2 separate regions of the Homo sapiens genome follow, and region 1 is linked to region 2. The links come from fine-mapping of genetic effects on gene expression. A gene starts in region 2. The other region holds a variant in brackets. All regions are shown on one strand. Distances are from middle to middle. Region 1 holds the start of LOC124905193 (a long non-coding RNA gene). Region 2 holds the start of KLF8 (KLF transcription factor 8).

Region 1 (5,380 bases), 200 kb before region 2:
CTGCAAAACCCACAGCTCCTAGAAATTCCCTTACTTGCCTTCTGGTTTTATGTTCTGGTAGGCTGCAGATGACCTGCTTTCTTTCTGACCCCAGGCTGTGCTCCCCTTTCTGAATAGTGAATCCCAGGTAGCATACCTGCTGTCTGCAAATCTGAGCTTTCTTCTTGGACACCTTATATCCACAGTCCTCCAGGTGCCAAAGTAGGGCATCCATCCCTTTTGCACACCCGACTGCTGTGGAGTGTCCTAGCAGAAGGTCGTCCACGTACTGGAGCAAGACGCAGCCTAGGTCTTTAGCAGGAAACTTCTGGATGTCTCGAGCCAACGCCTCCCTGAAGATGATGCGGGAATTTTTGAACCCTTGGGGAAGCTGAGTCCAAGTGTACTGTGTGGTGACACCTGACCCCGGGTCTTCCTACTGAAAGGCAAACAGTTTTTGGTTCTCAGGAGCTAGTCTAATGCTAAAGAAGGCACCCTTCAAGTCCAGGCAAGTGAACCAGCCATCCTCAGCCAGCAGCAATCCTAACAATGTGTAAGTGTTAGGAACTGTTGGGTGCAGAGTCACAGTAGCTTGGTTAACCAAGCATAAGTCCTGTACGGGCCGATAGTCCTTGGTCCCTGGCTTGGGGACAGGTAGGAGGGGGGTGTTCCATGGAGACTGGCAAGGAACTATAATTCCAAAAGCTTTCAAGTGTCTAAAATGTGCCTGTATTCCTTCAAGAGCTTCCCTGGGAACCGGATACTGCTTTTGTCTGATTGGCTGGGCCCCAGGCTTAACTTCTATGAGTACAGGGGCTTGATTGATCACCAGCCCTGGAGGATTGTCCTCCACCAATACTCGGGGCCATTGCTTAGCTAGTGCCGGTTTTATCTCCTGACCTGGCTCGGTTAGAAAAAGGCTCCATTCTTCTCAGGGGACCATAAGGACCATGATAACTCCTGTTCCCGGTAACTTCAGCTATAAAGAGCCCTGTTTTGTAAAGGAAATGGTGGCTCTCAGCTTGCTAAGCAAGTCTCTGCCTAACAAAGGCAAGGGGCAGTCAGGCATATACAGAAATTGATGAGTCACTTTATGTCCTTCTATCCAAGCAGGTCCACGGTAGGTAGAAAACCTGCTTGGTGGAGACTCTTGCTCCTATTATATCAGCGGTTTTCTTAGATAAGGGGGCCACTGGGGTGGTTACTACTGAGTGTTCAGCACGGTATTGACCAAAAACTTAATGTCCTTGACCCCTATTGTCATCCTGACCATGGGCTCCTTGGGGGCATTTGAGCTCGATCCCCTTCAGTCTAGAAGCCCTTCGGCCAGATTAAACAAAGTCCCTTCGTCTTTTTCTATGGTCTTTTTGCTCTGCATCACCTTGCTTCTCTTTTAGTTGGGGACATTTATCTTTCCAATGTCCTATTTCTTTACAGTAGGCACATTGGTTACGCTGCAGACGTGAGCGATTGGACTGGGCATTCCTCCCAGAACACCCCTTTCCCTGTCCCTTCGTGGGGATTCCCCTAATTGCCACAGCCAGCAAATCAGCGTTCCACCTGGCCTGGCGTTCTCCCTCCTTATGGCTTTCTCTGCGGCTTGTTGCATCACTGTTTACAAATATTTGATTAGCTATCTCCAGTAACTGCGAGATATTCATTCCTGCAAAACCAGCCTGTTTTTGTAATTTCCTTTGGATATCTTCTGCACTTTGACTAACTAAGGCCATGTTAATCATATGCTGATTTTCAGGACTATCTGGATTGAAAGGAATGTACATATGATAGGCCTCACACAGTCTTTCATAGAATTGGGCTGGGCTTTCCTCCTTTCCTTGGATGACTTCAGAAACTTTATTTACGTTGGTGGCCTTTTGAGCCCCTTTTTTTCAGACCTTCAATTAATGCCTCCTGGTATTGTCTTAGCCTCTCCATATCTGGTCCTTCATTCAGATCCCATTGAGGGTCCATTCCTGGCAGCTGAATTCTTATGTATTCCTGGGGATTTTGGTAATCGGCTGGGACATGCTCCTCTAGCCATTTAGTTGCTGCCTGGAGCACCCTTCGCTTTTCATCTGTGTTAAAGAGGTACATGAGTAGCTGGTGGGAATCAGCCCAAGTAGTATTATGAGTCTGTATAATAGTTTGGAGCAAGTCAATTAGAGCTTGAGGCTTTTCAGTGTAAGATGGAGTATTATTTTTCCAATTGAGGAAGTCAGCAGAAGTGAAAGGGTGATACACAAAGGCACGCCTTTCCATCATGTGTCCATCCTCATCTATCCCAGTATATTGCTGCTCTCTCAGGGGCATTTGTGTTCCAGTCTTGGGCTGTAAGCGAGCCACCAAGGGAGGAGTTTCTCCTGCAGCTTCACTTCCTTTCTTGTCTACTCTGGGTGGTCTAGGGGCTGTGAGCTCAGGATTAGGGGGCCTCTCTGCTTGGTAAGGGAGGGGCACTGTTGGTGCCATCTCCTGCCATGAGTCTTTGGGCTCTGGGTCAGACAGAACTTTAGGGGCTGGCTTCTGTCAGCGGGTGGAGTGAGGACCTTCCTTAACTAACTGTCCCTTTGCTACTAGTACTGCTGCTGCCTGTCCTGTTAACCACTGTGGGGGATCTAAAACTAGCTGTAACCAGGAATCTATATATGGGAACTGATCTGGGTGTCCTGGCTTGCCAGTTACTTTGTGCCATACCTTTGAAACAAGAGACCTCTCCAGGCTTCCTTCTGATGGCCAACCTACCTCTAATTCTGGCCAATCTATTTCACACAAAGTTCTAAGTTTTCCTGGAGTCATAGTAACTCCATAGTCTCCTTTGAATCCTTTCTTGAAATTCTTTAACATAGTTCCCAATGGGGTGGGCTTACTTTGTGCCTGACCCATGTTTTCTCAAGACAAAATATCATGCTCACACCACACACTTACCACAAAACAAAGAACA[G/A]GTAAAGAGGGCACACACACACCTTTATCGTTTATACCAAACCAAAATCAGAGTATCAAGAAATTTAAGCCAAGTCAAAACCAAAACCAAAGTATCAAGCAATTCAAGTCAAGTCAAAACCAGAACAAAAGTGCCGATACAGGCATGCTGTGGGTGGTCAGGCCATGCTTCCACTCAGATGGAGTGGGCAAGTTTCAAAGACTATTCTTACCAAGTTTCAGATGTCTGGACTCCAAGTGCCATTTCCTTCCCTGTGTTCAGCCACTGCTTTGGTCCTCCATGGGGGCTTGCCACACACTGCTCTGGTGAGGCGTTCCACCGGGCCAATTGCCTACCCGGGAGCGCTCTTTGGATCATGTCGCTCGGGTAGGCTGGAGTCCTCTGCAGGGATGCTCCACAGGGCAGGCCTAAGCTGCCTAAGGGGCTGCCTCGGCTGTCCATCAGTCACCTCGTTTCCCAGTCAGCGAACCAAGAAATGTAGCAGGACGAGCTGCGGACAAAACCCCACAGACACCGAGGTAGTGAAGGTAGTGGCTTTAATCAGCTGGAAGGATCGGCAGACTAATGTCTCAAAATCCGAGCTCCCCGAGTGCACAATTTCTGTCCCTTTTAAGGGCTCACAACGTTAAAGATTTTACATGAAAGGGCCGTGATCGATCGAGCGATCTAGGGGGTATGTGACAGGGGCTTCATGCACCAGTAATCAGAGTGAAACAGAACAGAAGGAGAAGTTTCACAATGTCCTTCCATACAATGTCTGGAATCTATGGATAACATCGGTTGCTAGGTCATGGGTTGAATTTTAACTACCAGGTTAGGTCACGAAGGCCCAGACCTGGTTTTGGGTCTGGTTTTGGGTCTGGTGCCTGGCGCCGGGCTGCCTGCCTTTGGTTTCCACTTCCTTGTTTCTTCTTAAAACAGGTACCGAGTATAAAACAATATAAAACAATATGAGGGGTCTCTTTTTCTCTTCTCTCACCTTGGCCTCCCAAAGTGCTGGTGATTACAGGCATGAGCCACCATTCCTGGCCCTTAAATATTTGTTTTATTTGGTTTTTGTTGTATATGCCTCAAGTCTTTCATTTTTTTATTGAGGTATAATTTATATTTAGTAAAATTTATTCTTTTTACATCTACAGTTCTTTGAAATTTGGCAATGTATACCATTCTGTAACCACCACTATAATCAAGATAAATAATGTTTCTGTCACCTGAAAAGGCTCCCTTGTGCTCTTTTGTAATCAACTCCTCCCTCTAATTCCCAGCCTTTATCAACTACTGATAAGATCTCTTTCACTGCAATTTTGTTCATTATAAACTGTTATATAAGTGAAATTATAAGTTTATAGCCTTTTGATTCTTGCTTCTTTTACTCAACATTTTTCTCAAGATTCATCTGTGTTGTTGTGCATGTCAGTAATTCTTTATTGTTGTTGTTCAGTAGTTTTCTATTGTATGAATATAGCAATTTGTTTATCCATTTATCTATAGATGGACACTTCAGTAGTTTCCAATATTTAGTGACTATGAATAAAGCTGTTTTAAACATTTGCAGACAGATTTTCCTGTGGACAGATTTGTGTTTGTATTTTGGGATGGGTAAATACCTAAGAGTGGAATTACTAGGGATTATGTTAAGTAAATGTTCAACTTTACTACCAACTGCCAAACTGTTTTCCAGACTGGCTTTAAAATTTCTCAGTCCTACCAACAATGTATTAGAACTTCATTGCTCCACATCCTTGCCACCATTTGTGTTTTTAAATTTTATAATACATTAACAAATAATAATTCTATATATTTATGAGGAACATATGATATAGATATATAATGCAGTATGATTGAACTAAGAAAAGTGACATATCCATCTCCTCAAATACTTATCATGTATTCTTCCTATCTAACTTAAACCTGTACCTTCTTAGCAACATCTCCCCATTCCCCAACCCAACCTCTGATAGCCACCATTCTACTCTCTATTTCTTTGATTTAGATTATTTTATATTCAAAATAAAAGTGAGATTATTCAGTATTTTTCTTTATGTGGCTGGCATATTTCACTTAGCATAATGTCCTCCAGTTTTATCCACGGTGTCGCAAATGACAGGATTTTTTTCCTTTTCAGGGCTGTTACTCCATTGTGTATACATACTGCATTTTCTTTATCAATTTTTTTTGATGGGCACTTAGATTGATTTTATATGCTGGCTATTTTGAAAAATGATGCAATGAATATAGGAGTGCAGACATCCCTTCTACATACTAATTTTAAATCCTTTTGATATATACACAGAAGTGGGATTTCTGGATCATATGGTAGTTCTATTTTTAGTTTATTGAGGAACCACCACACACTTTTTTATAATGGCTGTAATATTATAATTCACATTCCCACCAACAGTATACCTGAGTTCCTTTCTCTTCACTTGTTATCACTTCTCTTTTTTATAATAACCACCATCA
Region 2 (5,380 bases):
CTCAAGCCTTCTTTTTTTTATTGTTGTTGTTCTACTGGGAGCAGAGAGGGTGGAGTCCTCTTACTGAGGCTTTTCCTCCTCCCTTCCCTCCAGCCCTCAGACTGGGCTCCACCCTGGTAGTTTGTCAGCTGGCTTTCAGGAGGAGGAGAAGCGGGATGATGAAGAGGAGAAAGAGAAGAAGGGAAGAACAGCATATGTGGGCCCAGAATCGTGTCTGCATATTTCTCAGCTGCTTTTCATTAGGTTCCACACTTAATTTAACACTCCTCATCTGATTACTTGGATATATAGAGGAAAGCACAGGCTGCTTCTTCAAGCAGTCTCCCTCACGCATAAGGTGGGATGGAAGGAGTTGAAAATATCGCAGGTTGCTATTTGGTTCATGTTTATTCTAGCCAGCTAAAGAAAGGAGAGCCTGAGGTGTTTCCTAGACGGACAGGGAAATTTATCAAAACTTCTAGTTCCCCATACCTGCTCCCTCACACCCTTTCGTGTGACATAGACAACACCAACCACATGCTGATTATTTCTATGTGTCAAGAGTAAAAGAATATAAAGGCAAACTCCTGCCTTTGACATTAACTGTGGTCATGGGTTTCATAGTTCCCTGTGAACCATCTTTGGGTCCTAATTTGAGTGAGACAGAGGCCATCTCTAAAGGACTTGAAGGGGAAATGTGGACTAATAGGCTGTGTGCGTACAGTGAAATTGAGGGTTCATCCACTGGAGCCTCTTAGAATGGATGTTCTCATTCCACCGCCCCCCAACACCTAGCATTGTTCTTGATAAAGCACAGGTGCTCAATACATTTTATTGACTGAATAGATGAAAGAACAGATGGGAAAGGATCTTGGGTTTGTTTTTCCAAGTTTCAATAACTTCAAGTTTTCCAAAAACTGAATTTGCCATCTAAGGTCTAAGTTTTCCCCACAAATAAAGTTGAGGCAGTATTTCTAAAACAAACAAAAAGCTAGAGCTTAAAATAAATTTGTCAACAATAAAGACTTTTAATAAAATATAAACTGTTAAGCTATCTGTGTATGGATCGACCTTCTTGAAAAGCTATTTCAGACTGAAAAAGTAACTCGATGACCTTAAGGCACACCCACTGTATTCAGGGCTAGTAGTGGCTACTCTTTTCAAAATGTTACTTCAGCAATCTACTCATTTTCATCTGCACATCACAAAAATGCATTTATTATTGATATAAACTGCTTAATGTCTTTCACACACTTGAATCTAAGAGAAAACTTTTCAGCATTGCTCAAAACAGTGCTGTAGTGGTAAGAATCCTATATTGGATAATACTCCCCAAATTTTATACATTGAGAAACAAAGCCTCCAAGGAATAAAGTAAATTTTTTAAATGAAGGCATAGAGAGTTGTACACTTCTCTGTATGATTCCATCTCAATATATCTTACCTTGTAAGCTTGGCAGGGGTGCAGGTCGTGGTGAAGAGATATAGTGAGATAGAGAGTTATTTATGAAACCCCTACTACAGGGACATTCTTTTATGAAACAAATACATATGCATGTGTATTTATTTAACCTGTCACTAAGTTTCCACATCTGTAAAATGGGGATAGCAATGTCTACCCATAGGATTGTCAGAAGGATTCAATGAGTTAATATACATAAGAGGCTTACAACAGAGTTTAGTACATAGTTAATGCTCAATAACTATTATTATTGTTAATAATAATATAACTTGGCATCCAAGTTACAGAAATGAGATCGCCTGGTGCTTCAGCTCAAGGACTTTATAGTTTAGTAGGGGGAGGCAATTATACCAACAAATATGTGCCCCGAGGTAGAGAAGGGCACAGAGGAAGCAATGGTCAGTTTTGCCTGAAGAAATTAAGTAAGGAGGGGAGATGACCTTGAGTTAGTCCTTTCAAGAAAGTGGACAGATTCATTGGAAGGACATGCAAGAAAAAAAAAGGTGGACAGAGAGCTTAGTCTATTTCAGTCAGAGAAAGTAAAGCAACCCAAGGCATAGAGATTGGAAACAGCTTGGAATTCCCAGGGATTTGTAATCCAGGTAAAGCCCAGGAGAACAGCAAAATCTCTGCTGCTTGAGAGGCAGACAAAGGCCAGATCACAGCAGGTTAAAGGATGAGTTCCAGGGTGCTGCCTTGGATGTATGGTGGTGCCATTCAGGTAGTTGGTGAACTACAGGAGGAAGAACAGAGTGTTTTGGGGAAAGGAAGGTAGATGAGATGCACAGAAGACATTCAGGCAGAAATATCAACTAAGTAAGTAGACCTATGTGTTCGAAAGTACTGGGCTGAGGCCTTCCGTTTCCTTATTTTTTTAAATAAAGGGCACAGAGAATATAACAGTACCTAGTTCCCAGGGTTGTTATTGGGACTAAATGGGGAAATGTTGAATGTAAAAGCACCTGGCTCAGGGACTTGCCCATATTAGGTGCTGAATACATGGCAGATATTATTATTTCTCCTGTCTCTTTGCTCTTCCTCCCTCTGCTTTGTTTCTTGTCTCTCTTCTTTTTCCTCCTCTTTAAAAGAATTGTGGTAGGGAAGAGGCACTGAAAATGGGCTGTGGTTGCTTGTGACTTCCTGGCCTCCCATTAAAATGAGCTAGAGAGAGACTTTCAGGCAAGCGTAAAGAAATCCTGGAAACATGGCTCCTATCCTGTGGATTCAGCTTTACGGGGATCTTCGCCAATGCCTGGCTGAGAGGCGGTCTCAGGGGGTTGAGAACTCTATTCTTAGAGGTCTGGTATCTGGGAGACTGAGAAAGCCTTTCTTAAGTCTCCCTGCTGGGCCACGCTGTATTCACAGATCATCTTCAACTCCTTCTTCTTCCCCACCTACTCCTTCGCCCTCACCTCCTTGGCTTATCTCTTGCTAGAAAATGCACCAAGCTCCAATCTCCGTTCCTTTTAGCTTCCTCCCTGAGAAGACACTGTGACCTCGCTGTCCTTGTTCGTGTTACCATGGAGAGGTAGGAGGATAAATATCGCTTCCAGTTGTCAGCTTTTTTGTTTTCTCCTTTCCCTCTTAGACAGCCCCCAGCCCCAATCCCAGTACCCGTTTCACCACCCTCCCCTGGAGAATTAGCATAACCGGAGTAAATAGGTAATCAAGCAGTGTGCTTGCAAGCCTTAATTTTGGGACAGATAAGGAAGTGAAATTGATTGGAATTATACCTGCCGCTGCTGGAGGCTGAGGGAGGCGGCCGCCGGAGGCGAGGCCAGCTCTGTCGGCCCAGGGCCCCGCCCCACCCCCTCCTTCCTCCCTCCTCCTTCTCAGCCCCACCCTTCTCCACCTCCTCCCACTTTGCACTCTCCTCTAGCGGCCGCCTGTCCTTTTTAAGGAACTCCACCCTAGGTGGAGTCCTCACGATAGTCACACCTCTCCTTTGGGCCTAGCAGGGCCAGAGAAAGACGGAATCACTCTACCCACTCAGGTTGCCCAGAGAGCACTTTAGGTTCTGACTCGCGTGGGGCGCGAGGTACCCCGTGGGGCAGCTAGGTGCCTCCAAGAAACCCCGCCCCAGAGGACCCGCACGAGTTGCTGCCATTTTTCGCTGAAGCCCCTGCCCTGGGGCTGGTGTTCTTCTCTATGATTCTACCAATCGTCGGCATTTTTTTCCTCCCTTCTTTCTTTTTAGGAAGGCGCTGGGGTGTGCGGCGGCAACGGCGGCGGTGAAGGGATCCTCTTGTGGTATCTCCTCGTGGGTTCCTGTCTTGAAGGATTTCTTCTCCGCCTCAACTTTATGTTCAAGTAGCGCTTTGGGGGTTGGGTTGGTTTTCATAGCCCCCACCCCCGGCCCTCTCCTTTTAAAGGGTGTGTGGAGTTCAGAGGATGGGTGGAGAGCGGGCTTGGCCGGAACTGAATTGGTAGAGGTAAAAGGGGAACGGAGGACCTTAAGCTCTGGCCACTTCGGCCCAGCGAACCCACTTTATTTTTGTCCAAGGAAAAGCTGCAGGGGGGAGGATTCTTTTTAGGAAGTCTACTCTGCCGGCCCCTGATTTTTGGGTTGGATGCTTGAGAGCTTTGTTTCCCTTGTTCCGAGAGTGGCCCAGCTGGGTCTGAATCGACTCCCTCCCCTTTCGACCCCCTCCTCATTTTCCAGCCCGGAGAAATAGGGGAGTGGGGGCCCAAGAACGAGAAGACGAGAACGCGTCGCCCTGCGCTATGTCAGAATGGGGCGGGTGTGAGGGGAACAGCTCTCTTGCGATCAGCTCAGGAGTATGAGCCTCCCGGAGGACGGCATGAGTTCTGGACACTTCAGGAGTCCTCAGCTAGTGACATGGTCGGTAAGTGACTCTGGGACTAATACCCACCCACTCCCACCTCTTTCGTCTAGATTCTATCCCCCTCCCAGTCCCCCTGCTCCCCCCACACACCCCACTTGGGGTTTCAGCAGTGGGGGCGGGAGCGGAAGGTTAAGAACACTATGTGGAATCAAATGAAACTCAAGGGAAAATGACTTTGCTAAAGGGCTGGGCAAAGAAAGGCCAAGAAGGAGAGGAGAGAGCTTGGTGGAAGAAGTGAAAGGGGGCAAGAATGGATGGATTTGTCTAGTCTAGTCTCCCCTGGCTCGGCACTCCCAATACTCCTTAAGCGGTAAGGATTGTCTTTGACTTAACCCCACACAGCCAAAGTCACAACCAGAGAGAACAGGATTCACAAGGCCAAAGCTCCCAGGTAACCCCCTGAAGCCATAGCGGGTACCTAGAGAAGCTTCTGAAAAGAAGGAGGAGGGGACAGTGGTTTAAGGTGCAAAGTTAGGCTATTGGAGGCACAGAGTGAGGCCTGGAAGCAGCTGCGGGGGAGGAGCTGCTTTGGGCGTGCCAGCTCTTTAAGGAGGGGCTGAGCTTGGTTGGAGAAGGAAGCCAGAGCCTAGGCTCTGCTCCGGCCCTTTAAGACGTGGCCAAGGCAGTTGGTTCGTCTGTGTAGGTGGAAGACTGACTGGGCCGAGTTGCTGTGATTGCTGAAGTGAATCCATTTGTTTAGCCACTTGGCGGAGCTGTCTTTTTGTGGGCTTTTTTTTTTAACCCTAAGAATTTGGGAAAAAATAAATCACATCCAAACAGGTGGCCAAAGGCACCATGTCTTATTTCTTTTGGTATTATATTCATCGTGAAGAAACGCATTTATTAAGCACCTGTCACCCAGTGTGGTAATAATTGAGCAAAAAGAATAATCTTTAAATTTGGATTTGAAACTGATGGAGATTGCCATGGTTTGGGGTAATCTGCTTTGAAACCCTAGTATCACCACTTATTAGCTGCATCACCCTGGGCCTTGCTTTTCTCTTCCATAGAATGCAGATTAATAATTCTATCTCAGTAGATACTCGGGTGGATGAAATATCTTGTGTATGTGGCAGAGGCTGCCACTTGTATC

What was found. PIP is the estimated chance that this variant, and not a neighbour inherited with it, causes the effect.
Region 1: its variant is the best candidate, but not a certain one, in a credible set for the expression of KLF8 in whole blood (TOPMed, PIP 0.53).

Annotation. Positions count from the first base shown.
Region 1 is chrX:56,028,325-56,033,704 of GRCh38, forward strand. It overlaps LOC124905193 (a long non-coding RNA gene), which reads right to left and starts at 3,302. Exons shown (of 3, transcript XR_007068247.1): 1 at 3,129-3,302; 2 at 137-418. It also overlaps a transcript of KLF8 not described here. The variant G/A (reference allele first, on the strand shown) is at 2,918.
Region 2 is chrX:56,229,055-56,234,434 of GRCh38, forward strand. KLF8 (KLF transcription factor 8) reads left to right here and starts at 3,302. Exons shown (of 6, transcript NM_007250.5): 1 at 3,302-4,287. The coding sequence starts at 4,281.